Linked DNA regions of Homo sapiens. The protein of the gene in region 1 interacts with the protein of each later gene in a biochemical or structural test. Each region holds a gene or a part of one and is shown on either strand. Other genes may lie near its edges.

Region 1 (10,588 bases):
AGACATCAATCTCATTCCTCCTTTACCTCTCTGTGACTAAAACAAGGGCGGTGAGAGCTGCACTTGCTCAAGGCTCTGCCAGTGCGCGGCAGCAATGCCCACTAGAGGCCAGTGAAGCCTGTGGGTGCAGTGGCTCCAGGGACTGGTGCTTTCCCTAGCTTCTAGAGCGAGCCTGTCCAATCCACAGCCCACAGGCCACGTGCTGCTCAGGACAGCTTTGAATGTGGTCCAGTGCAAATTCGTAAACTTTCATCAAACATTATGAGGTATTTTATTTTTGTTTTTGTTTTTAGCTCATCAGCTATCTTAGTGTTAGTGTATTTTATGTGTGACTTAAGTAATTTCTTCTCCTTCCAAAGTGGCCCAGGGAAGCCAAAAGATTGGCCAACCCTTTTCTAGAGAGCATGGAACTGCACAGTCTCTGACTTCTCCAGCACTGTTCCTTGCATCTGGGCTCTCTCCTTCGGGGTGGACTTGCACTGTGTCAAGGGACTCTCTAATGCTCAGAAACATCCCCAGTGACTTTGGGAATCCTGGAGTAAGTTCTCATCTTCTCCTCCCAGATCAACATCACTGCCAGTGTCTCTGCATGCTCCTTTGTCACTGGAGCCCCGGCCAGACATGGGGAGGGGGGGTCAAGGTGAGAATGCTATGGAGAACAGGGACTATCTTTTCTTCCAGGGATGGGAGACTTTAAGGAATGAAGCCTCCTGCATGCAGTTGGAGCGAGTCCTCACTGCAGATGCCCTGACCCGGAGGGCCCTGGGACTACTGAGAGGTGGATGGCAGCCCCTCTGGGCTCCTTTGGAGGGTCAAGAAGGTGATGAGAGGTACCAGCCACAGCCAGCCAACCTGAAAAAGCCTGGGGCCAGAATGCCCGTGACCCATTCTCTCATGTAGCTGGTCCCTCTTTCTTTATCACTTAGGAGAGACGAGGCTCCGTTCCAGACCAGCAGCCTAGAGCCGTGGGCTGGAGAGAAGAGATGCCGCTGAGCTAGAGCAGCCCAGCGGCGGAAGGGAAAGTGGGTGATAAATTTAAATAACCAGCTTGACTTGGCAGCTTGCTGAGTTGTGATGCAGTGAAATTAAAATCTCGGCAGAACTTGCAAACACTACCCAGCAAAATCAGTCTCTCTCCTCGGTTCCCTGATGGAAGGTGGGGAGGGGAGGCTATGGGGCTGAGCCCTAGCCTCCGGCAGCCACCCTTGCTTGCAATGTGATTAGCTGTGTCCTGGCCCACTGGGCCCCACTCTCCCCTCCACACAATAGTCTAGGTTCCTCTCTCCTCTCAGTCCTGACCTTGTGGAATAGCTGCATCAAGTGGCTGGTGAAGTTTGAAATCAGCCTCCAGGGCCAGGAGGTGGCAGGAATCTCAATAAGGTCTGGCTTTTCAGGTTGGGCTAGGGCATTCCCTCATCCCCTAAGGTTTGCAGCCGCAGCTGTCAGTCCTGGGGAAGAAGATGAGCAGGGTGCCTGAGACGTGGAGGATAAAGAGGGCTCCTTGAACACCTCGGCACTCCTAAGCCAGGCTATGGGCACTGGGTGACCTAACAGCTCCCTTACCTTTAGCACACACCTCCCCAGAATCACCTACCCACCTAAAAGAGCCTCCTTTTCTCTTCTCCCACCAAAGCCCTTAATATTTGCCAAGAAAATAAGCTTTTAAAGACTCTTTGAGGTCAGTGTCCACAAATACACTAAGGGCCTCTCCCGCACTCCAGCTCTGCCTGGAGCCCAGTTCTCACAGATGCCAGTATCTTTCTAGAAGAACTCACCCAAAGTCCACTCTCCTGTTTCTGTTCTCCTTGCATCACTGCTCACTACTACCCACAATATCCTGGCCTGAAGGCCAACATGCTGGACCCACTGCTGAGATGGCATATGGAGTCTCTGAGCAATGCCCCATGGCTCACCTTGACAGTACCTCTAGCAAATTCTGTTTGTCCCCATAATAAACACATCATAAATCATTCATCTTTAATAGATTATGCAAATTAGGAGGACATAAAATCAACAAAGATCAATAACTGCAGCAGTTTAATTGCCAGCAAAAACATTTTAAGAATGAGCATAATCTGCAGCTCTTTCTTGGGTAATGGCACTATTAATCCAAACAGTGGATCTTGGCCTAAGTGTGGAAAAATCATTCCCTACCCCTATCCCCATCTTCCCTCCCCCACCTCTCCACACACTTGTCTCTTTTTGGTAATTTCCAGTTTCTGAGCGAGTTTCCCCGTCATTACCACTGGTGAACAGCTCCGAATGTTAATGGTTCTGCTTTTGTTACTCCTCGCTTGATTGAAATGTCGCATACAGATTGAGATGTTAGTGCTAACTTGCCACCTGGGAATGTCAAGCTGGGTCTGAAATGAACTTTTCTCACACTTGGATCCAGATGGATCAGCCGGAGATGTTCCCAGGCTGAGCTGGGACTGTTCCAGGGCCATGGGGGGGAGGCGGGTGGGGGCTGCTCAAGGTGGAGGCACTTCTCTGTACCAGCCCCTGGGTCTCCTGTGGCAGGAGCCCTACCCTGAAGATCCATAGCTCCACCCTAGGAAGCCCTTGCCTTCTAGACTATGGCCTGAGCGCTGGGCAGCAGATGGGGTTAGAGAAGTCTCCCGGGTTCTCTTTGAACAGTGCCTGGAGTGGCCATCTTTGGGAAGTGACCACTGTACTTCTGAGCAGGTCAGGAGAAAGGTGGCCTGGCCTGGGCCGTCTCTCTGCCTTGGGTCAGAATACCTAGCAGGTCAGAGAGCTTCCCAGCTGGGCGAAGGATGGCTCATGCTGAGGGCCATTTGGTCATGGGCTGTGTCCTGGCCCAGCTAACCCAGCTAAGGTCGTCACTCCCGAAAGCCCAGTCCAGGTCTCCAACACTTCTAGAATTCAACCTCTGACTCCCTAGCCAAAGATCTAGGCTGGAAACAGTTGTACCAGTACAGCCCCTTAGGGAGAGGCTGGGAAAACTGACAGGGCTCTCCTAAGCCCCCAGGTGGAGGCTGGGTGGCCACTGAGCCCAGCTCAGGCTCAAATGCAGCCGCACTCAGACCAGCTCACAGGCAGAACCAGGGCCCAGTCCTAGAGTGGGCGGTGCCTGTTCCCTGCCTTTGCCGCTGGCTCTGCAGCCCTGCTGCTGGGTCCGCAGGCCACCTCCGCTTGCCTCGCTCTGCAGGTAACGCCTCAGTGTCTCCCAATCCCCACCGAGACCCTTCTCAATCATCCTGTCTCCCAAGGAACAAACGGCACATTGGCTTTAGTGTCTCCAGAATAATTAGGTGAATTTTAATAACACCTCAATGCGTGTCTCTCCCATTTGGGCAGTCTCCTGGCCTGGAAACCCTTCTGCAGTGGCACGTGCATTCCACAGCCTGGAGCTCTGCGGCCTTCCCTGGACTCCACCTCCCCTTCCAAACTAACTGGCCCTGCTGCTCTTCATTTGTAGGGGCTCCTGGCCATGGCGCCCCTAGCTCTGCATTTGATTGTGGGCCAAGCCTGATCCTACCTGGCCTTGAAATCAAGCCTTGGTGTCACTGACCTCTCTGGGAAGCAGGAGGAAGGCTGGAATAATTGTACTCATCTCAAACTCCACAGAGCTGGGTGCCATGCCCTCAAGCCCAAAGCCATGATCACCCATGCTGCCTGGAGGGAGCGGTAAGCGGGTCCCCCAGGAGCCTTGGAGACCCAAGTGTGGAGGCTGGACACTGGGTACCCATGCTCCACTCTCACCAGCCTGGCTTATTTGCTTTCTGCAGACATCCTAACAAGAGGCTCATGATTCTGGGCAACTTGGGAGAGGGAAGAGAAATAGACAAAGGGAGAGGCGAAGGACAGGAGGAAGAACTGGCAACAGCCCCTCCTAGCATCAGCCTTTCCAGGTTGAAGCCCACAGATGCCCTGACCCCAGTTTTTTTCTCCCCACATCTGCACACCCCTGTTCAGGAAGCACCCTGGTTTTAGAAGCCTCGTTCTCTCTGTAAATATCACGGTGGGGGACCTGCTCCTCACACTGGGCCTCAGATGGCATGGGCTGAGGCACCCTCCACTGAACGCAGTGCCCCCACCCTCCTGGAAGCCCCCTTACCAGTCACAACTGGGTATGTCTGTGTGCCTGACACGTTGCTGCCCAGCTCAGGGTTGGTGGATGCAGATAGACTCGACTTGACTTCATCAAGCCCAGGGGTCAGGGCTGGGAGGGAGTACTCGTTCCCCTGGGAGGAGAGAGAAAAGTGACAGCTCTCTATTGATGCACGCACAGAGAAAGGGCTCGGTGTGCAGATGGGGAGGAGGAACAGGGGAGCCCGCCCAGATGGGGTAGAAAGAGATGGTGGGGCAGAGGGGAGATGCGGGGGCTTGGTGGATGATGGCAAGTTTTGTGCGGGTAGTAGACCTGACTTGGTGAAACCGGAGGCACAGCACCCTTTACACATTTTGGGCACTTAATGCCAGCACCCTTTATGTTTCTGTAGCATCTCCTGCCTAAGCACCCCTGCGGGTAGGGTGTAGTAGTGGGGATACCCTTGTTGAGAGGCATGGGATGTCGAGGAGCCTTGGGGAGGAGGGGGAACCATGACATGACTGGCAGAGCCAGTAGCTGGGAGAAGGGCCTAGTGGGGCCTTCAGCCTGGCACTGCTGGCTGATCGGGTATGGGCGCCCCTTTTTTAAAAACAAACAATGACAGCCCCATGGGCCCCTCGCTGTCTGCCTGTGCACTGGGGTATGAAATTGGGGAGGGGGAGAGTCCACATGGCTAACAGAAGGGTAGGAGGGGGCCAGTCATTGACTCTGAAAGGGTGTCCTGCCTGAAACACTCGGGTAATTGCCTTTTTATTGCAGCCACGGCCAAGCCAGACCCCAGAGCTGGGCAGACCGGGAGCCTGCACAAAGCAGGAAAAGTTGCTCTGATTAATATTACGTTAAATTAAAACTGATTTCCTGCTCTTTCGGGTCTGTTTTTTTCCCTTCCGCTTCCTGGCCCCCCTAGAGTACCCCCTCCCCTCCATGGCTGGACGGGATTGCCTCGTCATTTCCAATTCCTTCTCGTATTGATCTTCCTGTAGAAATCAGTTTTGTAATTAGCTGCAAATTAGGCCTTCTACTGGGGGTGAAGCTGCCCCCTGATTTATCACCAGAGTAATTCGCTGTGATCGGAGAGAAATTAAAATGAACTCAATTAGGCTTCGGATTTGCTTTATGGGCCCTGCTCCGAGTTTCAGGGGGAAAAATGACTGTGCTGGTGTTTAATAGTCTAATGAAAGTAAATAAAGGTTATTCATTGTAATACAGGCGGGGACTCAGGGAGGGTGCACTGAGCCGCCCGCCTCGGCCAGCTCCTCCTTTGTTGGTTTATGGCTCAGGGCACCTTAAAAAGACTTTTGATTTTTGTTTTATGAAGACAAACAGCTTATGGGATAAAAGGACGGGCGGGGAGAAAGGCGAGTGGCTGGGAGCTGTTGGAGTCTTAAGAGTGGAACTACAGCGTTCAACGCTGTGGGGCTGCACTGACGTGCATGTGTGGGTGCGTGTGTGCATGCATGCAAGCACAGCAATGCTGTCTTGTGCTGTGACTGTGGGCCTGGCCTGGGCTGCATGTGTAGCAGGGATGGGAGTGTGCCCCTGTGTGGGAGCGGGTGTGCTGGGGGCTCCACCCAGCGTATGTGGGTGGAGGCATATGCTAGGGGTATGCTGAGCTGGTGATCTGGGGGCAGCACACACCCACTGGCTCCATGCGGCTGCCGGGGCTAGCTGTGAGTACCGTGGGCTGTGGGTGAGGGAGCAGGTGGGCGGTGGTGTGTGAGCACAGTACCGTGGGCTGTGGTCGGGGGAGCAGGTGGACAGTGGTGTGTGAGCACAGTACCGTGGGCTGTGGGTGAGGGAACAGGTGGGCGGTGGTGTGTGAGCACAGTACCGTGGGCTGTGGGTGAGGGAGCAGGTGGGCGGTGGTGTGTGAGCACAGTACCGTGGGCTGTGGGTGGGGGAGCAGGTGGACAGTGGTGTGTGAGCACAGTACCATGGGCTGTGGGTGAGGGGAGCAGGTGGATGGTGGAGTGTGAGCACATGCACACCAGCACATAGAAAAGTTCGGAGATGGTTTCTGCGTTGTGCGTTTTGCTGGTGTGTTACATGCTGTGCCCCATGCTATGTGTCCTGGGCTGCTCAGTGTCTGCAGAAAGTGTTGGGTGTAAGTGGGAAGCTGCCAGCCTACCTAGGGTTCCATTGAATTGCTGGCTTGGGGAGCAGGAGGCAGGCACAGGCAGGCTCTCCTGACACTGGGCAAGGAGAGCTCCCCAGTCTAGCGTAGACTTTCTGTAGGACCCTGAGGGGGTGTGGGCAAGGGACACAGCAAGAGGATGTTCCTGAGTACTCCATGCAAGAACCACAGAAAAGCGGAGCTAGAAGGGACTTGACAAACCCTACATCCAAGCCCTTCATTCTATAGATGGGGAAACCGAGGCTCTGAACAGAGATGATTTACCCAAGGCCATACTCTTGCACCCAGAACTCATTTCTAATTACCATATACAGACCATAATGATTTGTCTTAACGATACCATACTGTCTCATGTGAGCCTGTTCACACTGCACACACACAGAACACACGTGTGTAACACATACAATGCTGGCTATGCATGTGGTGTTTAGTGAACAAGTTTTTGAGAGGCCTTGCTCTGCCGGCTCCTTTCTACTTCTGCAAGCAGAAAGCTCCCTCCTCACCTGTTCTGATTTGATGTGCTCTGATGCCTGGAAGACGTCAGGGTAGGAAGGACGCTCAAAGACCCGATCCAAAGCTTCCAGCTGCTGCTGGGTGAAGGTGTCAGCTCGCAAGTGCTTCCGCAAACTGTCCACACCACTCTGGGAATCTCCATTGGGGACTGAGCCCTCAGACACATCTGGAGAACACATGGACACTCGGGGCGTTAGCGCCAGGCCAGCAGAGGCACAGGAACAGTGCAGGGCAAAGAGGTGGGCATCTGGTTCCGGGCCCAGGAGCTCTGCACCCCTATGGGACCCCTTACTCTCAGCCCCTGGGCCAGTGGGGCTGACACCAGAGGGTGGCCCTGCCTCAGAGATCTGGCTGAGGAAGCCCAAGGAAGAGAAGGACCTGAGGACCTGGTAAGAGATGGAGCGGTCACACTGTGGGGTCAGGAAGGATTAGGCAGAGGTGGAGCCAGGGGGCTCCCAGGAGCCAGCTCCCTGGGGCATGTCTCCCTGAACCACCCCCTGCCCCCAAGCCAGGGCCAGCCTGGGGAAGAAAGAAGCTGGGTGTCTCAGACTGGCATTACTGAGCCTGTGGAGAATTGAACTCGGCTCCGAGATGAATTTCAGTTCCACTAATTCCAAGGGTTGAAAACCATCAAATTTCCGAGGCCGAGTGTAACCTGGAGACTGGGTGAAGTAATCAACTTCGCCCTGAGGGAGGAGGGGCTCTGAGGCAGAGCTGAGGCACTCTGCTTGGGTTGGGCCAGGACTGAGGCCAGAGGGAAACCAAGCGGGAGGAAAGAGGTGTCGCTAGAGCAGCAAAGCTCCCGCTTGGGCAGAGCCCACAGAAGGGCCCCTGTGGATGCCTCTATGCCCTGGCCGCCTTCTCGGCCTCTGTCTCCAACCTAGACCCAGGCTCAAGCCTCCTACAGGAGCCAGTTTCTTGGTCACCTGGTTCCTCCTGCAAGTCTCCAGAGGGAGCAGAGTCTTATCACACCGGTGCCTGCTCCCCTGAGTCTACAGGCCAATCCTGTCTCCATGTCCCCTTTCCTCAGGCGTTCTCAGCCCTCCCCTATCCTTGCCTCCCAGCGTCGGTTCCTTGGAGTTTTCAAGGTGTACAGTAGGCAATGTGCCTGCTCTGTGGCCTCTCTCTGAACCCACACCTTGCAGCCCCCCAAAGTGGGGTTTCCCCCCCAAACCCCATACCAGCTTGGTCACTCCAGGCTTCCCTCAGCCCAAGACCAGCTGAGGAGCCTTGGGCCTGGGGCCAGCCCATGCCGGAGGCCCCAGGGTGTTCCTCTGGGAATGTTATATATATCAGTTTATAGGTGATTATACGATATGATATAATCAATATTGCATTATATACAGTAACACCATACAGTATCATTCAGGAGACCATAGAAAATATTACATATTGATTAACTCAACCTGCAGCCATCCTCCCTTGCTGGCCTCCCAGACCGAGCATGGGGTTTGCTTTCCTAATGTGACCTCCCATCTTCCCTCCATATCTATTCTGGAGGGGGTGGGAAAGCAAAGAAAGTGTGTGTGTGTGTGTGTGTGTGTGTGTGTGTGTGTGTGTGTGTGTGTGTGTATGTGAGAGAGAGAGAGAGAGAGAAGGAGAGAGAGAGAGAGAGAGAAGGAGAGAGAGAAAGAGAGGGAGAGAGAGACAGAGATCAAGACCAGGACCACATCTGAAGAAGACAGACAGAAGCAGCTTCAATGGTATTTGTTCCCATGAACACAAAACTTGGTGGTTGTGGTTTCTTCTGCATAAGGCTCTGGAATCATTTCAGTCTTACGGGATGTATGCATCAACATATGAGTTGAAAGTTGAAGTGTGGTAAATTTATTTTTCCCTTTTGTGTGAGTATTGCGTGTCTACGCGCTTGTACATATATAAACGTCCAGATAAACAAGGGTCTGCGTGTGTGGAAATAGAATGAGAAGCTTCCTGAAAGAATGTGTGTGTCTGTGTGTGATTGCATGAGGACTGTGAGGCCACATGCCCCGTTTCTCCTGTGCCTACTTCTTTTTTCAGGATGTGCCATCATCCTCATTTCACTCCCTGTAGCTATTTGCGTGTCCTATTGTGTTTGATTCTCCCTTCCTGGAGCCCTCCTACCTTTTGGGGAAGCCGGACTCTCAGGGCTGAGGAAAGCATCAAATATCTTCATATATGGTTATTGTAGGGGCAGAGAGGGTGTATTTGTGAGCGTGTGTTCACACATTATGTGTGTGCATGTGTGGCAGGACTCTCCTCATGCCTCTGTGTAGATTTGTGTATATGCCTGTCTGTGTGTGGCTTGGCTCACTGTGTCTGTGTGTGTGTGTGTGTGTGTGTGTAGGGGCTGAACTGAAGCTTTGTCCTCAGGTCACTGGCTGGAGGAGTCTCTTTGCCTTCATTTATTCAGGGGCCCTTCAGATCTTGACAAATCTGTCACTCTAAATTTGCGAGAGATTATGGTGCTCTCTCCCCGGCCCGCAGAGAGGTGATATATGATATCTGCTGCCCCTATTGATTGCCTGATCTGGTGGCAGAGGCCGGCGAAATGAACTTGAAATGAACATCATGCCTCAACTCATTGTGCGTATAATACACTACTTAATCCCACATTTTTCAGCCGCTATGGAATTCAATTGATCAATCATGTTCCACTGATAGTACTGTTTTAGGGGTTATTGCTGCTCCCTCCACTCACTGACCTTTTTATTTATTTATTTATTTTTTTGTATACTCAGGCCCTGGTGGTAAGACAGGTTACAGAGGCAGCAAAGGAGGGGAAGGGGGAGGGAAAGGAGGCAAAGGCTAAGGAAGCCTGCTACTGGAAGAGGTGGCAGTGGGAGGCGGGGAAGCAGAGGAGAGGGAAGTGGGGAGGAGAAAGGAGGCGTTAGAGGAGAAGGAAAACAAAGTGGTGTGATGAAAGCATGCGGAGAACCCCCACCCCCCAGAGAGGCTGGAGGAGGCTTGCGGGAACTCCTGTAGGAGAAGGAAGGCAGCAGTCATGATGAATGGCGAAGGAGCACAAAGAAACTTATGGGGTGCAGGGAGGTGAGCCGCAGGGCCCAGGAGAGGGCAGTGGCATTACTGGTGGGGGACAGCCAGCCAGCCCTCCAAATACACCACACGTACCATAGGCTCTCAAGGGCTCTTTCCAGAGGAGGGGGTGGCATCCTTCCATCAGCTAGGGAAGGAAGGGAGGAATGAAGGCAAGGAGAGAGGGCAGGAAGGGAATGAGGAAAGGAGGTTGGGAGAAGCCCTGGATCAGAAGGTCCAAGGAGGATAAGCTCAGGGAAGGAGGAAGCCCAGAGGCGTGGAAGGGCAGAAAGAAGGAGGGGAAGAAAGGGAAGAAGCCTTCCGCACCAGAAGCTGGAAGTGCTGGCTGGGGTGAGGACACTTACTGCAGGAATAAAACCAGCTGGCTCTACTTTCGCTGAAGACTGGGTGTCCTGATACCTTCTCTGCCCAGGGCCTGGATGAGGGTGGCTTTGCAGGGGAAGGAGAGGAGGAGGAAAAGAAGAAGAGAGTAAAGGAGGAAGAGTCAAAAAGGAAAGAAGGAAGACAGCTGTCAGTGCTGACCACCTAGAGGGTTCTCCCGGGAAGATGGGGAGCGAGCTCGGCATGGGACTTTCCAAGGGCAAAGTCTCAGACGGGACGGCAAGGAGGAAGAAAGAGACCACTGTTAGGCCCAGCTGTTGAAGGGCTGTCTGGCAGAGCTGGGCTGAAACAGAGGTGGAAGCAGAAGCCGATCTTAATCTAGGTTTCTAGGATGTAAAAGCAGATCTTAATCTAGTGAGCAGGGAAGGAGAGCGCGTGAGTGATTAGACACCATCCATTTCAAAGAAGATCCCCTATCCAACAGCCCCTTTGCCCCCAGGCCCAGCAGCCAG
Region 2 (10,588 bases), on another chromosome or scaffold:
CCCTGCCTCAACCTCCCTTCCTAAACACAGACAGACACACAGACAGACTCCTTCCCAGCAGGAAGGCCAGCCGCATGGCAGCCTTTTGGACCTAGTATTCTGTATTTGGACCCAGTATTCTGGGAGTGGAGTTTCAACGCCAAACACACGTCCTTTATTCCCTCTCGAACATGTCATCTCTTGAAGCTTCATCTGGGACATAACAAGGGCTCAGGAAGGCCATGGGTGACAATGGCACCTGGGAGCAAAGCCACACCCCCACATTTACCACCACATCACCGTTACTGTCATGAAACCCAGGACCCCCAGCTCAGCCCAGATCTGGCTCTTCAGCCCTGTCTTAAGAAAAGGAAAAACACTTATTTCAGAGTCCAAAGCAGCTCTTGTCTGAGCCTGTGCCATCCCGGCCCCTGTCCCCAGTTTATCATCCTGGAAGGAAGGAGCAAGTGGCAGCTCTGCTGAGTGTGCCTGGCAGGCATGGGCATGGAGAAAGTGGTGCCCACAGATCGATGCTCTTTGGTGGCTCAGCCACAGAAGACATTTTCTAGCAAAGCAAGAAATGTTTTTATTTCTTGCCAGCTCAAGGAGGAAGCAAGCCATGCCTGGTCTGTGCCATCTCAAGACCACCCAACCCAACTCCAAAGAGGAACAAGTGATGCAGCCCACTGGTGGCCCGGGCTGCGCCAACTCGCCTCAACTCACTTCAGGAAGGCACACTCAAACTAAAGCAATTCCAGTGAGAAAAATCCTACCTTCACTGAAATTATCTGGAGTCTGGGGCCTGAATGATATAAAATACACCCTTAGTTCCCTACTCTGCTTTTGTAGAGGAGACTCGGCCTCAGCCCCAGCCCAGAGAAGTGGCCTCGGCTACATGGAATGGGGTATGAATTCACTCATATTCCTGGGCGAATGATCTCTTAAGCTGGCAGGGAGGCATGGTGGGGCCTTTCTTCTGGCCAGGAAACGGTCTGCTTCCTCACATACTTTTCATCCTACCTTAGCCCCACACTGGCAGCAGTCAAGAATTCGGCCTAAAATAAAAGAGGCCAGGGAAACAACTCAGCTACAAGGATCCAGTCAGAGAGCGGGGTTGGAGGAAGCCAGCTCAGAGGAAGATGAGTGTTGATTTTCATCTTAGATGCTCTCGAGCCCCTGGTTCTAAAATTGGAAGGTGCAGAATCCCCTTGTGCAGGAGTATCTGATGGCCACACTGGTAAGCTCGAGGCTCCGAGCCTTCTGCAAGCCACCAGTCACCTCCAATACTACCAGGCACACACCCTCCCAAATCTGGCTTGCTGTATAGACAGAGAATGAGGGGATAACTTTTTTTTCCCTCTCAGTCTGTTTTCCAAAAAGAAAAAAGACAAAAGAAAAAATTCAAGCTGAAGGGAGGGGGAATGACTGGCACCTGGCCCTTCTGCATGACGGGTCACGATGGTCACACAGGGCCGGATGCAGGCCTAGAAAGATCCACAGAAGTAGGTAGAGACTTGGGGGGTGAGAGTGGTGTCCCCTGCTTCTAACCAGTTACCAAAGCAACCTCTCAGGACAAGAATTCCAATACCACCTTCTCCTCTCCACAGTTCTCCAACATGTAAACTCAGGGCTCACTCTAGTCTAGATTACATTCCTGACGCAGTGCTGAAAGCACCCCCAAACCCGAATTTTATTTCTGGATCCAGTTATATCATTCCTCCCAACTTCCCAAACAGGCAAGGGGGTGACCACAGCCATTGTGAATCACTTTTCTTTTTTGTGAATGAACAGGAAGAAAGACACAGAGACACACACTCGCGGAGAAACAACCTTTGCGAGAGTTGAAGTTAAGCCACATTCTCTCAAATTCGCATAAAGAGAGGAAGAAGGAAAATGAAGGGGAAAAAATACTGGAATGGTGGAAAGGAAACACACACACACACACACACACACAGAGAGAGAGAGAGAGAGAGAAAGGTTTGGTAGCCCTCTCATTACAAGTTGGTTGGGCATAATGTAAACACACTTCTGCCTTGCTTAATCACAGAGTGCCGCCCGTTTAGGTTTCAAAGGCGGCAGTAAATTGGGCGTAGCTGAGTGGAGGCTAAAAATTAACCAGCCATCTCTGTTTCAATTTGTAAGAAAACAAAAGCGGAAAGAAATTATAAAAAGGGAAAGGGTAAGGGAAAAAAGGAACAGAGGAGGAGAACTAAACCACCCTGACCCAAAATGCAGGGTAAAACTGGAAAAGCGAAGAGAAGCAGAACTACTTGGAACACAAAAGGAAAAGGAGATTTTACAGAGTTTTTTTTTTTTTTGGTTTGTTTGTTTGCTTGTTTAAGACCTCTTCCACAGCAACGCTGCTCCCTGCCATGCCTGTGCCCCGAGAAAGCCTCTCTGCTCCCCAGTGCCAGGGCTGTGGGCATCCATCCTGAGGCCTTGCCACTTTAGCTGAAATAAGGAGAAGGGAAAGAGCTCAAGGAATCTCGTCCTTGTTTTCACTCTCTATGAAATCAAATTACTTTCATACTGACAGCCAAATCCCAGCCAAAACAGCTCCCGCCTGAGTATTTAGGCCACAGAATCTGCCCACTACTGTCTTCTCTCCTCTTTTCTGTTCATTCAGTCTCATATCCCAGGGTTTCACATGCCCCTTCTCTCCACCGGACTCCTGCCCATCCCGCTTGTACCAAACCCAGTTTTTCCTGGGACTGGAGGTGAAGCTGCAGTAAAACTAGCACCTGCCCCTCAATACTTCTTCTGACTCATTTTAATAAGAGCAATTACTGGTTTGCTGTTGTTGTTCATCTCAAACTCTCACCATCATGGATAATTCTGGGGGCATCATGTCCCCAATCCTAAGACCTGCAGCATCTTTCTGATCAGATAAGTCCTCCAAAGATGGAGATGCACAAAGTCGATACCATGGCCAGGGGGCAGAGGAGGAAGAATAGAACAGGTCGGGGGAGACAGAAGACAGGAAAAAGGAAAAGGGCCCATAGAACCGTGTTGCAGGCCCCGCAGGACGGGCATACACCAGTTAGGCCCATGGCGAGTTATCGCTTGGAAATTAGAGGAACAATAAACAGAACAAATGCCAGCAAGGAAAATAAAATGAGAGGGAAAAATGGTTGAGAACGACCTACCCGGAGTGTGGACAAAGTAAGCCAGATAAAGATCCAGTTCTTTGATTGTGACTCCAATGTGATGTGGCTGGACGCACAGGCCGGGGTTCGAGCACTGAGGCGACTTGTAGAGCCGCTCCCCATCAGTACTTTCCAGGGGGATCCCCTTAAACAAAATCACCATGACCAGGTCCAGCCGCCACACCTTGTCAGCCTGGCGCAGGCAGTCAATCCGCCGGATCTTGCCCTTCTGGTCGGGGTTGGAGAGCACGCAGCAGGGGGGCTTCTTGCCCGTGATGGTCAGCACGAAGTCCTCGCGGAACTCGGGCCGGATGTCCTTGCGCAGCTTGGCCAGCAGCCGGGATGCCCACTTCTGCTTGATCTCGGGCTTCTCGCCCAGCAGCTCGTCCTTCACCGCCCGCTCCTCGTCCTTCGACATCCGCTTTTCATGCTTCTTGAAGTACTTGCGCTTCCGCGCCTGCAGGTTGAACCAGGTGTAGGAGAAAGCGCGGACGTGAGGCAGCAGTGCCTCGATGAACGGGTGGAACTCATCCTGCAGGCGGCAAGCCGGGAGCATGCGGGGCGAGGGAGGACGGGAGGAGGGGAAGACGGGATGAGGGGGAAAGAGAGAAGGAGAAAAGCAGCGTTAGAAGGGGGGGCACAAGGAAAACCGCCTTCTCCTCCTCCTCCCTCCCCCCAACAATTTTCTCTTGCGATTGTTCTACGAAAGTGTGGTTTGAAGCCACCACCAGCTTCGCCAGCCACTTGCTCCCATCTCAGCCTCAGCAGCCAGACAGAGGCACCGGGAGCCTCTACACACACCTATTCTCTCTCTCTCTCCCTCACTCACTCACACACACGCGCACAGACAACGTTGCCGTCCACACACACACGCTGCTGGTATCCCCGCCAGGCTCTGTCGCGCCCATGACATCTCCATGTTCTATCGCAGCCGTGAACTCCTGTCAGCTCGCCCCGGCACAGTGTCCGTCTGCACAGACGCCCGTGGACGCACACGCGGGGGCGTGCGGGGCCGCCTCTGGTCCCCGACACCGGTCGATTTTTGGCCGCCCCCAAGAAGACAGAAAATGACATCCACGAGCAAGCGAGTGAGGAAACAGATCAGGCTTCCCTCTCCCCAGGCTGTTTTCATTTTCTTTTCTCCTGATCCAGTTGGAACATCCACCCCAACATTTTTTAATCAGACCTAAATCCTAAATATGTGATTTCAGCTTTGTTATCGACACCAATACTAATGTTAATCACAGTAATAATGAACAAAACACTTCTTGTTAGCACAAATAAGGTGCTTGTCTCGGCCACATTAGGGTTAAAAGCTACATGGGTCTTCTTGCGACCCCTTCCCCAGCCTCCCACAACCCCTTCACCCTTTTTCCCACTCAGTCAGGTGACAGAAGGATGGGCTCTCTCGGTTTTGTTTGGTTTTTTTTTTTTTTTTTGGTTGTTTGCTTGTTTGAAGTTTAAATAATAATTGATTTCTGTTTACAAAAATAAAACTGGAAAAAATTAAATAATTACCATTGATCTGAAGCACCCGGCAAAGCCCAACGCCCGATTCTGAGATTCTGGACTCAAAAGAGTTGTGAGTTGGGGGCGGGTGGGGGGAGGGGGGAGGAGGAGGAGCAGGGGAGGAAGGTAAATGTTTTAAAGGGGGTTATTATTGGTGTTCTGGGGAATAGGGGCCGGGCTTGGGTGGATTCTCAAACCCTTCCCCCTCCTCCCCCCCCCCATGCTCCATTGCACAGAAGGGGGAAATTAATATTTTTTTTGAAAAGGAGCAAAAAGAAAGAAAGGTCAGGGATAGCAAGCAGAGAGAGGGAGCGAGCCGGCTGCCACACACGCCAGGTAAACAAAAGCCAACAAAATTTTTTTTTCAATTTCTTCCCCTGTGCATCCTCTTCCAGTTTAAAAAAAAAAAAAAAGAAAAAAATGCAAAATTTAAAAATCAAAACCAGCCTCCCACCATCTCCCCACAACCAACAACGCACCCCACCCCACCCCCGTGCAAAACAAAAACAAAAACAAAACCCAGGAGGGAAAAAGCGGCAGCTGAAGAAAAAGGCTTTCGGCTTTGGCAGCGGCACAGGGGTGTAAACTTCGAGCTGCCTGATCGGAGGAAAAGGGGGAGCTCGCAGATTCCCGGGGAAGAGGACGAGTTCTGACCGGCTGCAGACCGTTGCTGGCAGACGCGTGCAAAAGAGAGAGAGGGAGCGAGGGAGGGAGGAAAGGAAGAAGGGGGGGAGGGAGAGATCGAGGATCGAGGGAGGACGTGGATGGGATGGGGCGTGTGTGTGAGTGTGCGCGTGTGTGTGCGCACTGGTTGGGTTTTTGGGGTGTTTTTTTTTTTTGCTCCTTTTCTCTCTCTCAAACTCCCTCTCTCTCTCTCCTTTCAGGCTCAATCCCCATCCATTTGCTTGTGCCAAGCCAGTAAAAAGGGGTGGGGGGAGAAAGAGACAGAGAGAGAGAGAGAGAGAGAGAGAGAAAGAGAGAGAAGGATCCACCTATTTGGCAAAGAGACATCCACGAGCAGCCAATGGCTGCGTCCAAGGGGAGGAGGGAACCGGGCGAGCAGGGAGGGTGGGGAGAGCCCCCGGCAGTTGGAGACCAAAAACAATTTGCCCAATCGACAAGTTCACGTCTAATGAACAAGCAAAGTCCAGCAGTTATGAATTTTTCATTCCAGGCTCCCACTCGGGTCCATTTGGCAGCAGCCACCCAGCAAATCTGGGGGTGGGGTGGGGCATTGGGGGGGACTGGGATTGTGGAAGACTCGAAATTTTTTTTTAAGCCTGAAAAATAAATAAATAAAGGCCTGACTCCCGGCGGGCTGGCGGGCGGGAGCCCCAGAAGGCCTTGGGGAAGCAGCTGCGCCTTCTCTCTGTGTTTTGGTTTCAGTCTTTCTCTCGGGCCTGCACACTCTCTTTTTCTGTTTCTATTTCTTTCTTTCTTTTTTTTTTTCTTCCTATGGAGCACACAGGGGCGAGTGGAAGTTTTCCTCCCCGGCCACATACACACGGGCCTGCGGTGCTATGAATAGAAATAAGAAGAAAGAGAGCTCAGAAAGTGTCCATGCCAGCAGTACTTCCAGGGCAGGGATCTGGTGCCCAGGGTACTGCCACCTTGTGATGCCCCCAGGTCTGGCTGCTGAAGGAGCACTCTCAGACAAGGGGGAGGCCAGCACCCCACACGTCCCTCCCTTCTCCCCCAGCCCCCAGCAAGCTCAGCCTCCTCCTTCGGCCCACACCCAGCCACGCACACTCCATTAGCGGTGACGAGGGATGCCAACGCAACACAGCTCGGCTCGAGAAACTGCAACAGTTTATTAAAATAGCCTCCTGTCACAGCACTCCGCCTGACAAGCTCTACACGCAGCCACAAACAACAGCCAGACCCGGGGAGAAGTGACAAAGGCAAAAAGATGGACACTACCTCTGAGCAGAGGCAAGGAATCTGACCAACGCCCCTCACCACTGCACAGGCATTTAATTCTCCAGATCTGCCCTCTCCAGTTGACCTGAGATTAGTTTTCTTACCTGTCTCCCAAATCAATTTAGACTAAAGAGCCCAAACCCTAGCAGTGCAAAGTGCAAAAGTATAAAATGAGAAACCCAAATGAAAAGAAAAGAGCTAAGAAAGGACACAACAAAAAACAGCAAAGGGCTCTATCAAAAACAGGCCACCTGGGGGAAATCAAGTCACAGAGAAGTGACCCACCGGGGAGCCCCTGCTCTGGTCCTCCACTTGGGGACCTTCCTCACAGCAAGCAGAAAGGGTGAGCACTGGGTAGGGGAGTCCCACTTCTGAGGGGGTCTCTCCAGTTAGAGCTATGGAGCAGCCATGCTTGAGGCCTTCGAAACACAGTAAGAAGGAAATAGATATGACATAAAAGGAAAAGCAGAGGAAGAAGGATGTGGCTGCAGACAGGGAGAAAGGGATCCAATTCCACTCAGAACCCCATCCCTACAGCCGCCCTCTCCCTCAGCGAGGCTCAGTCCTCAGCTGGCGACGGAAAAAAGGTCACTGCTCACTCGTGCCCCTTTCTTCCCCAACTGAAACCCTGTGCTTTGTGGCCTTTATGTTGGCAGAAAGGTTCCCGGAAGAGCACCTGGGGCATGCCAAAATAAAACATCCAGCCCTGGGCTGGCGCTGAACCCTGACAATGGGAGAGGGGCTGCCCAACACCTGGGACCCCAGTCTGTGCCCTGAATTATCCATCTCAAGTGAACTGAGCTCATGGCTGATCCCTGAAAGAAACGGTTAGAGGTGAGAGTACAGAAGGCAGGTGGTATCAGAGACAGGCCTCTTAGGGTGGTGTCCAATAATTCACATCATGTTAATAACCAGCTTCAGTCCAATCAGCCAAAGATGTTAGCTCAGAGACATGACATAAGGTACCAAATCCTGCCTCTCCACCTTGTGGAAACAATTTTACCTTCTAAAGTCAAGATGAGGTCATTAAAAACTACAAGTGAGTTTATATTTGGCATGGAGGTGTTTTTCTTGTATTCTGATTTATACTAAATATTAGACACCAAACAGAAAATGGCCAACACGAGCCTCCTGGAGAATCCTGGCATGTTCCACTTCACAGACCACAGTGCCACAGTAGAAGAGACATGCTCGACATGGGTTGAATCTGAATCTGGTGGTACAACTGGGTCAGGGATAGAGGTGGGGGCAGCAACAGTCCCACAGCTGGGAAATGACAGATGGAAGGATCCATGTAGAAGTTAGGGAAACAGGACAAGATGCACGACTGGCTCCTGGAGAGGGGTTGGGGGTCAAAACTCCACGGACTGGCGGAGAGATCAGAGGAGAGGCGGCAGAAGAGTGTCTCAATAGAGCCTCAGGGACCTACAAAGAGCCCCAAGCACCCCCTCAAGGCTCTCTTAACAGAAGAAGCAACAGGCCTTTCCCAGGGCAGAAAGTTGGAGGAAGAACAATTGTCAATTGTCCTTCTCCTGCCAGTGGCTATAACCTTGCAGGTGGGCAGAAGATTCTCAGGCAAATACTTTCCCCTCACCCCATTCTCTCTATGGGCTGCTGGCTCCCAGTGGAGGAGGCCTTTCTGGAGGAGTGGCCAGGATATTCTGATGCTTCGGGAGATGAGAAGGTCTCTTTCTCTATTTCTCTTTCCTCCCTCCCTCCCTTCCTCCCCTCCTATTTTGGGCGCACACAGAGGAATTGCTCGGGTTCCATTAGAAACATTTCAAGCACCCTTCACTGCGGGCCCCCTCCTCCTGCATGCCACTGGTGGCGGCCATCAGCCCAGACACGCCCCTCATGAGCCCTAGACAAAAGGAAACTGTCCCCCTTTTGTTAAAGAGTGGAGGCTCCTGTTGGAAGATTACCTGTTCCCAGCCCAGCCTCCTTCTCTTCTCCCCTCCAGCCCCAGGCAGGAGATCAGACCGCTTTACATCCTGCACCAAAGACCAGAATCAAGACAAAAAATCCCTCATACGATTCAAGGCTTCTCCAGGTCTGAGTCACTGGCAAGTGTAAGAGTTCAGGTGATGGAAAGAGCAAGGGGACATGCAGGCCACAGAGTAGAAGGACATGGGAAATGGGGAAAGGAAGCCACTGATGCTGGTAATAGGAAGAGAAAAAAAAAAGACAAGGGGGGAAAAAAGGAAAAGCAGGAAACATTGTGGGGGAAAGGTATTTCCCCCATTGGAGAGAAAAATCATCGAGAAGCCAGAAATAAGACTTTTTAAAAATTCATATGGGTTTTTGGTTTGTGGAAAGGGATTTTGCTGCCATTATGGAAGAAAAGCCTCTGTCTTTTATTGTTGAGTACTATTTGGTAAAAAAAAAAAAAAAACAAACAAACAAAAAAAAAACCAGCAACAGTTTTCACTGAAACATTTCTAAAATACATACCCATGCCAGTTTCAGCCATCACTAGGAGAAATGTACCCCCAACAGAAAAAGACTGAAAGGGCCACGGAGAAAGAGAAATAGAGAGAAGGAGAACGAAAAAAGAGAAAAAAGCCAAACCTGGAGAGAGAGTGCCAAGCTAGGCCCACAACTGAAAAGAAAGAAGGACAAAGATGGAGGGAAACAGAACAGCAGAGGAAGAAAAATAAGAAGACAGAAAAGGGCTCTGCACCGCGGCAGAGAAAGAAAAACCAGTTAAGGAAAATGACTGCTTCTCCATGAGAAGAAATGCATGGTTTTCAAAAACTCTACACAACAGACCTGTCCACTGAGCCTGTATGGATTATTTGAAGAAAAATAGGAAAATATGTACAGCACCTCACTCACATATACAGTGTTAAAAATTCTTCAAGGAAACAAAATAATCTTCCCAGACTGAGATAGGTTTTGCAACCTGCCCGCACCTACCTATAGTGAAACATCTAGAAGCATAAGAAGTTGTATATTTTAAGACAGGGCCACTTTTAGTAGCCTTCTTTATCTTAAAAAAAAAAAAATCCTATGTGTCCACATCCTGCTGGCTTTAAGGCCCAGATTTATTCTTTCAGATCCTGGACACTTGGGCCCATGTTGATCTGGGTAACTACAGGCAATTAGAGCAAATAACTTACAAAACTTCACAGAAATGACCAGATATTCCAGTATCCATTTTAATAAAGCATATCTGCAGCCTGGGTATGAAAGGACATGGGAAATTAAAAAGGCCATAAACAGGGCCCCAATTAGTTTGCCCAATTGTTGGAATTTTATAATTCAGCCTTGGTCTGAACCAAAAGAAGCCGGCTTCGTAACCCTGAGCTCTCCCACCTTGTCCCAAGATTACTGCTGCTTCGTGGAAGGCCACAAGAAGACAGTGGCCAGACAGCGGCCAGAGATGGGAAGGGAACTGCAGACATGACGCAGCGGCAGCACTGGGCAGCCAGGGAAGGGGCCCTGCTGCTTATCCTAGAGGAGGGTGGGGCCTCCCCTCAGTTGGGGGCCAACGAGAAGGGGCTCTGTAGTCAGAACAAAATCATCCAAAAGTCTGGAAACTCCAGGAATGGAAACCGGAAAATGCACTTTGCGAGGGAGCTCGGATAATTTGGACAAAGCGGGTTTTTGGCTGACTTGGGCCTGTTTTCCTCTGCTCAGGAAAGGCGGCTCTGCGCAGTTTCTTTCCAGTGTCCTCATGCTGGCTGAATGGATTCGCCCCACACCCCAGTGCTGGGTCTAGGACAGGGTCTGCCTCACAGCCAGGCCGCACACTTCTCTCCTGTAAACCGCGCCCCCCCCCCCCCCCCGCCCCTTCCTTTTCTCCTCCAGACTACAAACCAGGAGCGGTGGCCTGGGATCGGGCCAACAGGCAGCCTCGTTCTGGCTCCAAATGCTCCTCTGCTCCAGGCACATCTCCCTTACCCTCTTGGCACAGAATAATATAGGGTAGGAATGGGGATATTAGGGGAGACAATCTATTCTCTCTAAGGCAACTGGAAATTGTTTACTTTCATCTCATCCTCTACAAGGAATGGGAAACAAAAATCCTACTC
Region 3 (11,130 bases), on another chromosome or scaffold:
CACTTGTAATCCCAGCTACTCAGGAGGCTGAGGCATGAGAATCACTTGAACCCGGGAGGCGGAGGTTGCAGTGAGCTGAGATCGTGCCATTGCACTCCAGCCTGGGCAACAGAGCGAGATTCCAGCTCAAAAAAATAAATAAATAAAAAATAAAAATAAAATAAAACAGGACTTTAGCAAAAACCCTGAAAAGAGCTATAGTGAAACTTCAATGTACTGCTTGCAAGATACTGAGGAAAAGATATAAAACAAATTATGTTTACTACTGACCTTTACAACAGGTAAGTCAAAGACTTCCCGAGCTTCTCCCACCTCTGGATTGTCCCCATCCTCTGAGATTATGTGTGAGGCTAGTGCATTGTAGGAAACTTCCTTCGCTTTTCCAGCCTTGAGAAGCTGAATAACCTAAAAAACAAGAAAATCCACACAAATTAAAATGGGCAATACTGTACTGTACTCTTGAATTACAGAAATAATTATTGGGCATAATAGTACTTTTTAATAAAAACACACCATATTCCCCACATAAAAACTAACAGCCTTTTACTCTGAATAATATGCCAATGAAACTTTCGGGGACAATCAAAAGCAGCAAATCTTGATTCACTGACCAAGTCAATGACCAAGTAATGGAGGCTATTGTGAGTCCAGTAGTGGACATGGTCTGTCCTCAAGACAGATGGGCTGGACAAACCAGGAGACAGCACAACCACTGCTGCGGTGGGGCCACGCACATGGTGCTCCTGAGCTTCCAACTTAAAGACTGGGACATGGGGAGTTTCATAATTAGGGAAAGATTCTGGAAGACAAGATATGTGAGCAGAACCCTCATAAACGTCTGGGTGTTAGGCAAAAATCCATACATCGAGGAAGAGGGAGCAGTGTTGAAGGCACTGAACAGGTGAATACAGAGCAGACCGTAAATGGGCTTTCTTACACACTATGCAAAAAAGTCTGTGCTTCATTCTGGGGTATATGCAGGGCCACTGAAGGATTTCACACAGGAAAAGTAGCACAGATTTCATACAAAGATGACAGTCCATGTGAAAAGAAAGGATTGGGTGGGCTGGCTGTGTTTGGTTGGCTAGATGACTAAAGACAAGAGACCTGTTAAGAAACAAGTGCAATAACCCAGGTGAAAGAGGCATCCACTAAAGTGATGTCCTGATGGGCAGAAAGGAGGAAGATGTGAGAGAATCGGCAAGCCTTGGTGTCTGGAAGGGGTATAAGCAAAAGAGCAAAGTCCAGACTGAAATGGTGGTGAGTACCACTCACTGAGGAACACATCAGAAGGCTGGCAGGTGGGGACACAAGGACGTGTTTTAGTTTGGGCATGCCATTCTTTGGGGGTCGTGTTAATATCTGGCAAGAGGCATCCAGTTGCAGCTAGGAAAAGATGTGGATCTCCCTGACAGAAAGTCATCAGCATTGTTACATAGATGGGAGCCACAGCCATGAGCGTGAAGGTGGTCGCAGTGCAGAATGGGAGGGGAGCTAGAGAGCAGACACAGCAACTGATACTTCAGGGACAGGTAGGGAAGTGCAGTATCACAGGAGAGGAGCGTCAACAGAAGCCAAGGAAGTGAGGGTTAAGGAACAGTCGACAGTCAAGTGCTTCAGAAGAGGTGGGCAGTGTCTAAGCTGACAGTGCACACCAACTGTCAAAGTGACATGGTGCCCACAAAGCTCAAGTGACCCACCAGGGCAACGCTCTTCCAGGTCCCCTCTCTGCAGCAGAGAGCTTTCTTCTTTCACTTATTAAACTTTTGCTCCAACCTCAAAAAAAAATAAAGTCACCCACAAGCTAGACAACCTTTTCAGAATACTTTACCGACCACTAATAGATATGAACTAGAGCAGAGGCTCAATATTTAGTAAGTGAAAAAACAGCGGTCACTGGCCATGGGCCACTTTACCTTTCTTCCTTCCCTTGACCTCTAAGCATTTTTAGCTTCACGCATCCATTCGACTGGTCTTCAGAAAAGGCACCCCTCCTTTTCCTATCCTCCAGTCTGTTTCTGATCCTACTCCCTTCTTCATGAGTTTCCCTGTCCATAGCTATGTTCCCTCCACCTGTAAACAGTAAAGTCACCCACATCCTTCCACGCGCTTGTGATGCAACACAGATCCCTCCCCAGCCCTCTCTTCCTCAGGCACCTTCTCTATTTCCTTCTCAGGACAAACTTCCTGAAGAGTCTAACCTTTCTGTTCTCAGTTTCCATTCACTCTTCAACTCCCTGCAATCCAGCCCCTTCCACCAACACTCTACCAAAAACACTTTACTCGGTTTTCACGAACTTTGAGGATGCCAAAACCAATAGCTTCTCTTCAATCTCCACACTACTGAGTATCTTAATAGATTTATCTCATATCACTCTGTTCCAGATATAGTGATCATCCTGATGTATCCCAAACGCATGAATGCCTTCATTCCTCAGCACATACGCTCCACATGAAAATATTCCTTCATGTTCTTAACTTCTGCTTATCTCAAAACCCAACTGAAATGACATCTACTGAGTGACATTTCAGTGGTGTCTACTTTGCACCCCAGTGGAGAAATCTGCTACACCTTGTACTGTGATATGTCCAGGTGTGCTCCCTCCCCCACCAATGAGGGGCGCTAAAGGGCAGGTACCATGTCCTCTTCACCTCTGTATTATACCTGGCACCTAGTCCATGCCTGCCTCATATTAGATGGTCAACATGTGAACTTATAATCCACAGTCATAAGAGTCAGAGAATCAGATGTCCAGGCTCAAAACTTTTCAGAAAATATACTGTTTCAGATGAAAGTGGTTTGCCAAGGACATTTTTAAGCACTTAGATTTGATTCAAAGTCGAGTAAATATGGTTCCAGTTCAACTTGTTCCAGGTTTTAAGTAACATTTGGTTCAAGTCCCCTATAAGAGCCAAAGTCCTAAAATGAAACACGAAGGCTAGGAAGGAGGGGGAAGAGAAAAATGGTGGATAGCAAAAAACAAAAACAAAAAAACAAACAAAAAAAAGAGGGGCGGGGGAATCATCAATACTGGAAAAAGCTAACACTGTTACAGGCACTCATCTTCATCGCTCCGTGTTCAGCAACTGTTTTACTCTGTAAATTCAAAGATAGAAGGCTTTTTTTTTTTTTTTGAGACGGAGTCTAGCTGTTGTTGCCCAGGCTGGAGTGCAGTGGCGCGATCTCGGCTCACTGCAACTTCCACCTCCCAGGTTCCAGCAATTCTCCTGCCTCAGCCTCCCGAGTAGCTGAGACCACAGGCGCCCGCCACCACGCCCGGCTAATTTTTGTATTTTTAGTAGAGATGAGGCTTCACCATGTTGGCCAGGCTGGTCTCGAACTCATGACCTCAGGTGATCCACCCGCCTTGGCCTCCCAAAGTGCTGGGATTACAGGGGTAAACCCGGCCTTGAAGTCTCTTTACCCTAAAGTTACAGGGCAAAAAGGGTCCAAAAAGTTGTTACAAGGACGAACCTCAAGAAGGCCAAGATCACTCAGCCTTCTACAATTCCTTCTACACCATCCAAGTTCATCTGCGAAATATGAGTCTCCGCCCTTCCAGGCCTAACTCTGATCACTGGGGATCCCCATCCTCCAAGGTGGGGGCCACTGATGTCACACCCAAGGCAACACAACTGTACAGCTAAACTTTTAAGAAGGAAATATTTTGAAGATTAACCTGAAGAGGATATTCAACTAAGATGCATTCCTACCACGGACTGATAACTGTGTGACATCAAACAGATATATTATTATAGGAATACTAAGGAAAACCCACAATATCCTTTGGCGTGAGCCCAAACTACACAAAATTAAATGTGTAATGTGATGGTGTTACCAGGGTACCGTAAAATTAATCGTCCAAGTGGGAAAATCAAGGAAGACGAATGCCAGCCCCCACGTGCAGGGACACAGGCTGGAAGGGAGCGCTCCTCAGCCCCGCACAGGACGGCAGCTGCCCGGGTGGCGGAGGCGGCCAAGCCGGTGCACGGCCACGACCCCCGCCGGCCGAGCGAGGCTGGGGTCCCCGCGCGAGCTGCCCCGGCTGGGGATCCCGGCGCCCCTCGTCCGCCCTCGGAGCTGCTCTCCCGGGAGCCGAGACGCCCGGCGCGGGGAATGGGGAGACGCGACCCCGCGCCCGTCCCGCTCAGCAAAGGAGCAGAGAACGAGGCGGCCCGGTGGGTCGGGGGCGGCGACCCCAGGGCCGCAGGCCGGGGGCTCAGGGCGCGCACTAGGGGCCGAGGTACAGAGCCCCAGCCGCCTTCCCTCCCGCACTCCCCCGGGCCCGGGCCTCCCGCGCCCACCCCGCGGTCGCCCCTGCCCTCAGCGCAGTCAGGCCAGCGGCCTCGGCGGACCCGACGCTCTGCGCCCGGCGCGCGCCCGCGGCAGGAGCGGGGACGGGGACGGGGACGGGGACGGACGGGGACGCGGACGGGGGAGGAGGCCGCGGCAGGGGCGGGCGCGGTACCTGCGGGTCGATGTCGCCCACCGCGTAATACTTGACCTCCCTGAACATCTCCTCAGGAACTTTGGGCGCCTGGTCCGACATGATCGCGGCGGCCCGGGAGGCTCCGCGGCGGCGCCCGGCCCCGCCCACCCCCCGCCCCCGGCCCCCGCGGCGCCCGGCGCCCCCACTCGCCCCGCCAACGGCCCTGCCCGCGCAGCCCGGGCCCGGTCCTGCGAATCGGGGTCCGCTCCCCCGCCCTCCGCGCCCCCGCCCGCGCCCGCGCCGAGCGCCCGAAGCGCGGGAGCCGCGCGCGCCCTGCGGGACGCACCATCCCGCCCCGGCCACCGAGGGGGAGCGCCGAGGAGCCGCCCGGCCTCCAGTGACGCCCCGCGCCTCTGCCGCCAGCCACGGCTCCGGGGTAGCTGGCGCCGGCAGCCCGCTCTGGCCCTTGCGGTTCCGTGGCCGCCGCTCTGCAACGAGGGGGCCCCGAGGACGAGGGGAAACCAGCTCCCCCCTCGGCGGGGCCGGAGTGAGCCGGTCCCGGGGAGGAGGGGAGCTGGCAGGCCCCTCCCGTCGCCACATGCGGCTGCTCGGGGGCGGCGCATGCGCGCGGCGGAGGGGGGGGTGGGGCCTTGGGGCCGCGAGTGGGAGCGGGAGCGGTTCTGCGGCCTCCTCGGGCTTCTTGGCCCTGGGCGGAGTGGGATTGGGTGTCCCGGCTGTTCGCAGTGGCCGCGAGTGCGGCCGGACCTGGAGTAGTACCTGAGCCGCTCTGGCCGAGCAAGGCGCGGGGCCCCGGTCTACACCGCGCTGGACCCGGCTATGCCGTGACGGAATTCCCGAGGCCGTAGCGCCACGCGAGACGCGCACTGGTGGCCTCCGCGGCGAGTCCTGGGGTCTCCGCAAGGCCTCAGTGCCCGAGCTGGGGACGTGCTGGGGGGAGGCCCGGCCCCGTCGCTGCCCGAGGCCCCGCTGTCCCGGCCGGACCGGCCTGGTCCCTGGCGTCCTGTCGGGTCCGCGCTGGAGGAGAGTCCCAGACAGCAGAGCCCGCGGTGCAGCTCCAGCCCCGGGAAGCCCCGCGCTCAACAGGTTAATACTACACAGCGGCGATTCTAATGGTCACGCTTTTATTTACAGCTCGCCTCCCTTCCGCCAAGATTCACAGAACACGGCAGAGTGGCCTCGGGATCACCTGCCCAAGACACCTGCACGACCGGAAGTTGGGAGAAGAAATTAAGGCCATGATGATGAACGCAGCCTTTCTCGTTTATTTCCAATCCCACAACAAACCGGAGTCCAGGAACTCATGGGTGATTATCGGACTATTACCTAGTCGTAAAACTGTGGAGCATTGGTGTCTAAAGGAATCTGAGACAGACCCGCAGTGTCTCCCCCACATGCCTTAAGTCACTTCTGCCAAGCAGAAAATCATTTTTAAGTAAATGTTAGTGAAATTGGTTTTAAAAAAGAGAAGGGGCCGGGCGCGGTGGCTCACGCCTGTAATCCTATCCTTTAGGAGGCCGAGGTGGGCGGATTGCCTGAGTTCAGGAGTTCGAGACCAGCCTGGGCGACACGGTGAAACCCCGTCCCTACTAAAATACAAAAAATTAGCCGGGCGTGGCGGCACGCGCCTGTAGTCCCAGCTACTCAGGAGGCTGAGGCAGGAGAATGGCTTGAACTCGGGTGGGGGAGGTTGCAATGAGCCGAGATCGCGCCGCTGCACTCCAGCCTGGGCGACAGAGCGAGACTCTGTCTCTGAAAAAAAACAAAACAAAACGAGAAGGCTTTCAAAATTACTCTGCGGTACACTAATTTAACAGATTAGATCACTTTCCAGGCTTTAAGTTGGCCTTTGTTCTACCCTTTTTTTAGTGTATGATAAAAGTTGTGTTGGTTCGTTGATCAGCATGCAATGAACTCTGGCTCTTGTTAATCAGGTGACTACAGTTTTGTCCTTACATTTGTATGTATGTCATGAGTGGTTTTGTATGGGCAGGAGGTAAACAACGCACATTTAAATATACTTAATGATTTATCATTCCAATGTTTTCTGGTTGTTTTAGTCTTTCATTTGTCTCTTGAACAATCTGAAACATCCCTATTCTAAGGCTAAAAAATTTCCTTTACAAACTTAGGTTAAACATTCCTAATCTGAAATCCAAAATGCTCTAAAATTCGAATTTTTTTGAGTACTGACGTGACCCCACAAATGGAAAATTCCACACTTGCCCTCATGTGACACTGGGTGACAGTCAAGTCACAATCAAGCCTGGTGTGGTGGGCACCTGTAGTGCCAGCTACTCGGGAGGTTGAGCAGGAGGATTGCTTGAGCCCAGGAGTTTGAGTCCAGCCTGGACGATATAGCCAGACCCTGTCTGTAAAAAAACAAAAACCAAAACAAAAAAAACAATGAAAACATTTTTTTTTAAAACGCCATCAAAACTTTGTTTCATGCACAAAATTATTTAAAATATATAATATAACCTTACCTTCAGGCTATGTGGGTAAGGTAAGGTGTATGTGAAACAAATGAATTTCCCATTTAGACTTGGGTCCCATCCCCAAGATATCTTATTATGTATATGCAAATATTCCAAATCAAAAATATCTGAAATACTTTTGTCCCAAGCATTTCAGATAAAGGTTACTCAACCTGTAATAAAAACACTCAGTGCTTGCCTGAAGGAAAAACCAAGAATTTGTCATCCATCCTTAAATTTTTATGACACCCTTTGTAATCAGGAAACCTTTTAATACCTAAGAATATATTTGATATATTCTGGTATATGTTTATCATTCTGATGTTTAATGTTCTATGTTGGGCATATATCAGTGTAATAAATACATTAGATCCAAATACAGATCATGCTGCCTTTTTATCGACCTGTGTGAGAGAACTTATTTATCCTTTTCTTTTTCTTTCTTTTTTTTGAAACGGAGTCCCACTCTCACCCAGGCTGGAGTGCAATGGCGTGGTCTCAGCTCACTACAACTTCCACCCCCTGGGTTCAAGCGATTCTCCCACCTCAGCCTCCCAAGTAGCTGGGACTACAGGTGCGTGCCACCACACCTGGCTAATTTTGGTATTTTTAGTAGAGACAGGTTTTCACTATGTTGGCCAGGCTGGTCTTGAACTCCTGACCTTGTGATCCTTCTGCCTCGGCCTCCCAAAGTGCTGGGGTTAAAGGCGTGAGCCATCACACCCGGCCCTCCCTTTGATTTTCTTGGTTAAACACAAACTAAGCATGTGATTTTATGTTAAAAGACCTGAAGTGGACCTCAACCAGGTATTTTATTTTGTGAATTAAGAAAGCAATTTGTAACGTTCAAGAGAACAAGCTTACCCTACTTCAGGTTCTGATGGTAAGGCAAATTGCGGGATTAAGAAACCTGCTATTTAAGGCCAGCGTGGTGGCTCACCCCTATAATCCCAGCACTTTGGGAGGCCAAGGCAGGCAGATCACTGGAGGTCAGGAGTTCAACACCAGCCTGGCCAACATGGTGAAAGCCAGTCTCTACTAAAAACAAAAATTAGCTGGGCATGGTGGCGTGCACCTGTAATCCTACCTTCTTGGGAAGCTGAGGCAGGAGAATCACTTGAACCCGGGAAGCAGAGGTTGCAGAGAGCAGAGATCACACCACTGCACTCCAGCTTAGGTGGCAGAGTGAGACTCTAAATAAATAAATAAATCTGCTATTTAAAACCCCATCACCTAGTCAGTATTTGTAAAATATCACACGTGAACTGTGCAAGGCGGTCCACACAAGTGGATCTTACGGCAACAGCATCAGGAAGGCCTGGAGGCAGTGTCACACTCACTCACTGAGTCTCCAATACTACTGCTTGGCCAGTAATGAAAAATAAAAATGTTTACATTAGGTTAATTTCATGTGGATAAAGGATGCTCTGAGGCAGTCTAAAAAACTAGCATCCTGACATCATGAAGAGTAACCCATCTAGCAGAGGACGTAAAGATGGCAAGTCAATATTTAAAGGCAAGCGGTAAACTCAGAAATTATCTTCCCCAAAATGGCCATATGCAAAGTTATAGGAACAAAATATCATGTTGACAGTGCTGTATCTTATTCACAGTTAAATAAAATTCTTATCACTGGTTTTGTGACACTTTAAGGATGACCCATTTTAGGGTGATAGCTATCAGTTTATTAAACAGAAGCTATGCATTTGTTTAATTTGAAGCATATACCACTTCCAAATATGACACTGAGCATTAATATTTTTAGACTTCCCCCAGGTAAATTAAAAGCATGATCATTTTGTTGATAATCAGCCTTTGGAGAATTAAACAGCCTGCTTACTGCCAGTGCTAGTTCAGTAAATATGTTTCTCATTTTCTATTTGGCAAAATTAGATAACCTAAGCCTAGGAAAAATAAAAAATTAGAAAAAAAAAAGTAGATTTGGGGATATTTAACTCAAATTGCCCTTACTGGTGGAAACTCGAGGCAGTTACTTAGATTATTTCCAAATGGCTTTTTTTAAATGTATTTCTATATTGTATACAACAGTCTCAGTCTTCATCTCTCCTGTTCAGCTATCCATACATCCCTTAAAATTAGATATTTTTAATGTTTAGTAAACCTTCAGTTTGGGTTTATAGACAACATTTAACCTTCTCATGAAAGGGTCAGAATACTCCAGTTGCAGGCACAAACAGGCCATAGTTTAGTTGAAGGAGAAACTGCGAACTCAAAGGAGCACTGCTTCTCTGCAGGAAAGATCCCGTCAGTGGACCTGCGGGGCACAGCTGCCACCAGTGTCATGTAGCTATTCAGTGTCGGAAAACTAGAAATCACAAGTGAAGAGAAATTGTAAATTACCTCAAATTCTATGCCCAGAAGCAACCACTATGGAAATCCTTCTAGACATTGTCCCGTATAAATATATTTCCCTAAAAAAAATTATACCCCATACTCTGCCACTTCAAAAAAATCAAGACTGTTTTTCCATGTCAATAAATATCTATATCATTTAATGAATACATAATACTCCCTTGTTTGAATGTACAATATTCTGTATTGTTGCACATTTGTTGTTTCCAATTTAACAATTACAGTACTCCAATGAAGCAATCATCTTAAAATACATGTATAACGTATTATAATGTTCCATCCTTTAAGGTTAGAAACGACGTCCCATACCTGTCTCCCGTCACTCTGAGAACAGTGCGGTAACAGGATCAGCGATTCTCAACCATGGGCAATTTAGCCCCCTATGGCACATTTGACAACGTCTGGAGACATTTTTGGTTGTCACAACTAGGGGGTAGGGGATGCTACTGGCATCTAGTGGTGGAGGATAGGAAGCTGCTAAACATCACGCAACGCATGGGACCGTCCTCCATGACAAAGGACCCGTGCAAAATGTCAATAGTGCCACTGTTGAGAAACCCGGATTAAGATCATGTTGTAACTACATTTCAGTGGGATAAGACTTTGAAAGTTTCCACCGGGCACAGTGGCTCATGCCTGTAATCCCAACACTTTGGGTGCCCGAGGCAGGTGGATCACTTAGGTCAGGAGTTCGAGACCAGCCTGGCTAACATGGTGAAACCTCATCTCTTACTAAAAATACAAAAACTAGTTGAGCATGGTGGTGCGCACCTGTAATCCCAGCTACTCGGGAGGCTGAGGCACGAGAATGGCTTGAACCGGTGAGGTGGAGGTTGCATTGAGTCAAGATTGCACCACTGCACTCCATCCTGGGTGACAGATCTAGACTCTGTCTCAAAAAAAAACGAAAAAGAAAGTTTCTTGCACATAACGCCTTGGTGGCTTCCTTCGGACAGCTTTCTTCCAAATGGGACTTGGCTTCTGTCATGTGGCTTTGTTAGCTGTACAGATGGGGACAAAGCATGTAGAGTATCCTGCTGCAGTTTCTATGGCTGAGCTAGCAAGAGTGGCACACATACCTCCAGCCATTTCCACTGGCCAGAACCTGGTCTCCTGACACCTCCGTAAGCTGTAAAGGAGACTGCTGGGTGATGTGGTCTTCTTACACGTCCAAGAAAAGAAAATGGCATTGATGGTATCTTGCCAATTTTTGCCATTTTTGGTTTTCAAAAAAATTCTTATATGAATTAAGATTAGTGTAATATAAAACAAAATTCTCAAAGATAATTTCAAAAAAAATACCCGTTAGCTACTCAATAGATATTTGTTGAATTTGAGGTTACTGGCTTTATACATAGAGGATTAAGCGTATTCTTTTTCCCGCCTGGCCAAATGGTAAAACCCCATCTCTACTGAAAATACAAAAAAATTAGCCAGGCATGGTGGTGCACGCCTGGAATCCCAGCTACCCAGGAGACTGAGCCACAAGGATCGCTTGAACCTGGGAGGCAGAGGTTGCAGTGAGCTGAGATCATGCCAGTCTGGGCCACAAAGTGAGAGTCTATCTCAAAAACAAACAACAAAGAAACAGCATTATTTTTAAAAAGCAAACACAAGGTAGTTCTCTGAGGCATGTGAGGGATGTGTTAGATGCCTTCCATTTGTCCCACTCCCCATGTCAGATCTGTACTCCATCCTGCTCCACCTTTTTCTCCGCCCCTGGGTGCTGACCTGAGCAGATTATATAAGTAGAATCCCTTGCACATTGGCTTCTAGTTGAATTTGGTCAATGGGGAGTCCCAGCAGAAAGCTGGGCAGTGAGGGGAGGGAGG

What was found.
Region 2: the proteins of PAX2 (region 1) and NFIX form a complex in vitro, tested with the Homo sapiens proteins (one study listed by BioGRID).
Region 3: the proteins of PAX2 (region 1) and PAXIP1 form a complex in vitro, tested with the Homo sapiens proteins (one study listed by BioGRID).

What each region holds. Positions count from the first base shown.
Region 1 is NC_000010.11:100,802,727-100,813,314, reverse strand, and holds part of PAX2 (paired box protein Pax-2), read right to left. Parts: intron 6,886-10,588; coding exon 6,710-6,885; intron 4,206-6,709; coding exon 4,079-4,205; intron 1-4,078. UniProt on the Homo sapiens protein: Transcription factor that may have a role in kidney cell differentiation. Has a critical role in the development of the urogenital tract, the eyes, and the CNS.
Region 2 is NC_000019.10:13,018,090-13,028,677, reverse strand, and holds part of NFIX (nuclear factor 1 X-type), read right to left. Parts: intron 4,707-10,588; exon of another isoform or gene 4,647-4,706; coding exon of another isoform or gene 4,644-4,646; intron 4,100-4,643; exon of another isoform or gene 4,045-4,099; coding exon of another isoform or gene 3,959-4,044; intron 3,900-3,958; exon of another isoform or gene 3,682-3,899; coding exon of another isoform or gene 3,658-3,681; coding exon 3,126-3,657; intron 1-3,125.
Region 3 is NC_000007.14:154,998,380-155,009,509, forward strand, and holds the start of PAXIP1 (PAX-interacting protein 1), read right to left. Parts: upstream 4,746-11,130; 5' UTR 4,551-4,745; coding exon 4,470-4,550; intron 3,161-4,469; exon of another isoform or gene 1,701-3,160; intron 406-1,700; coding exon 271-405; intron 1-270.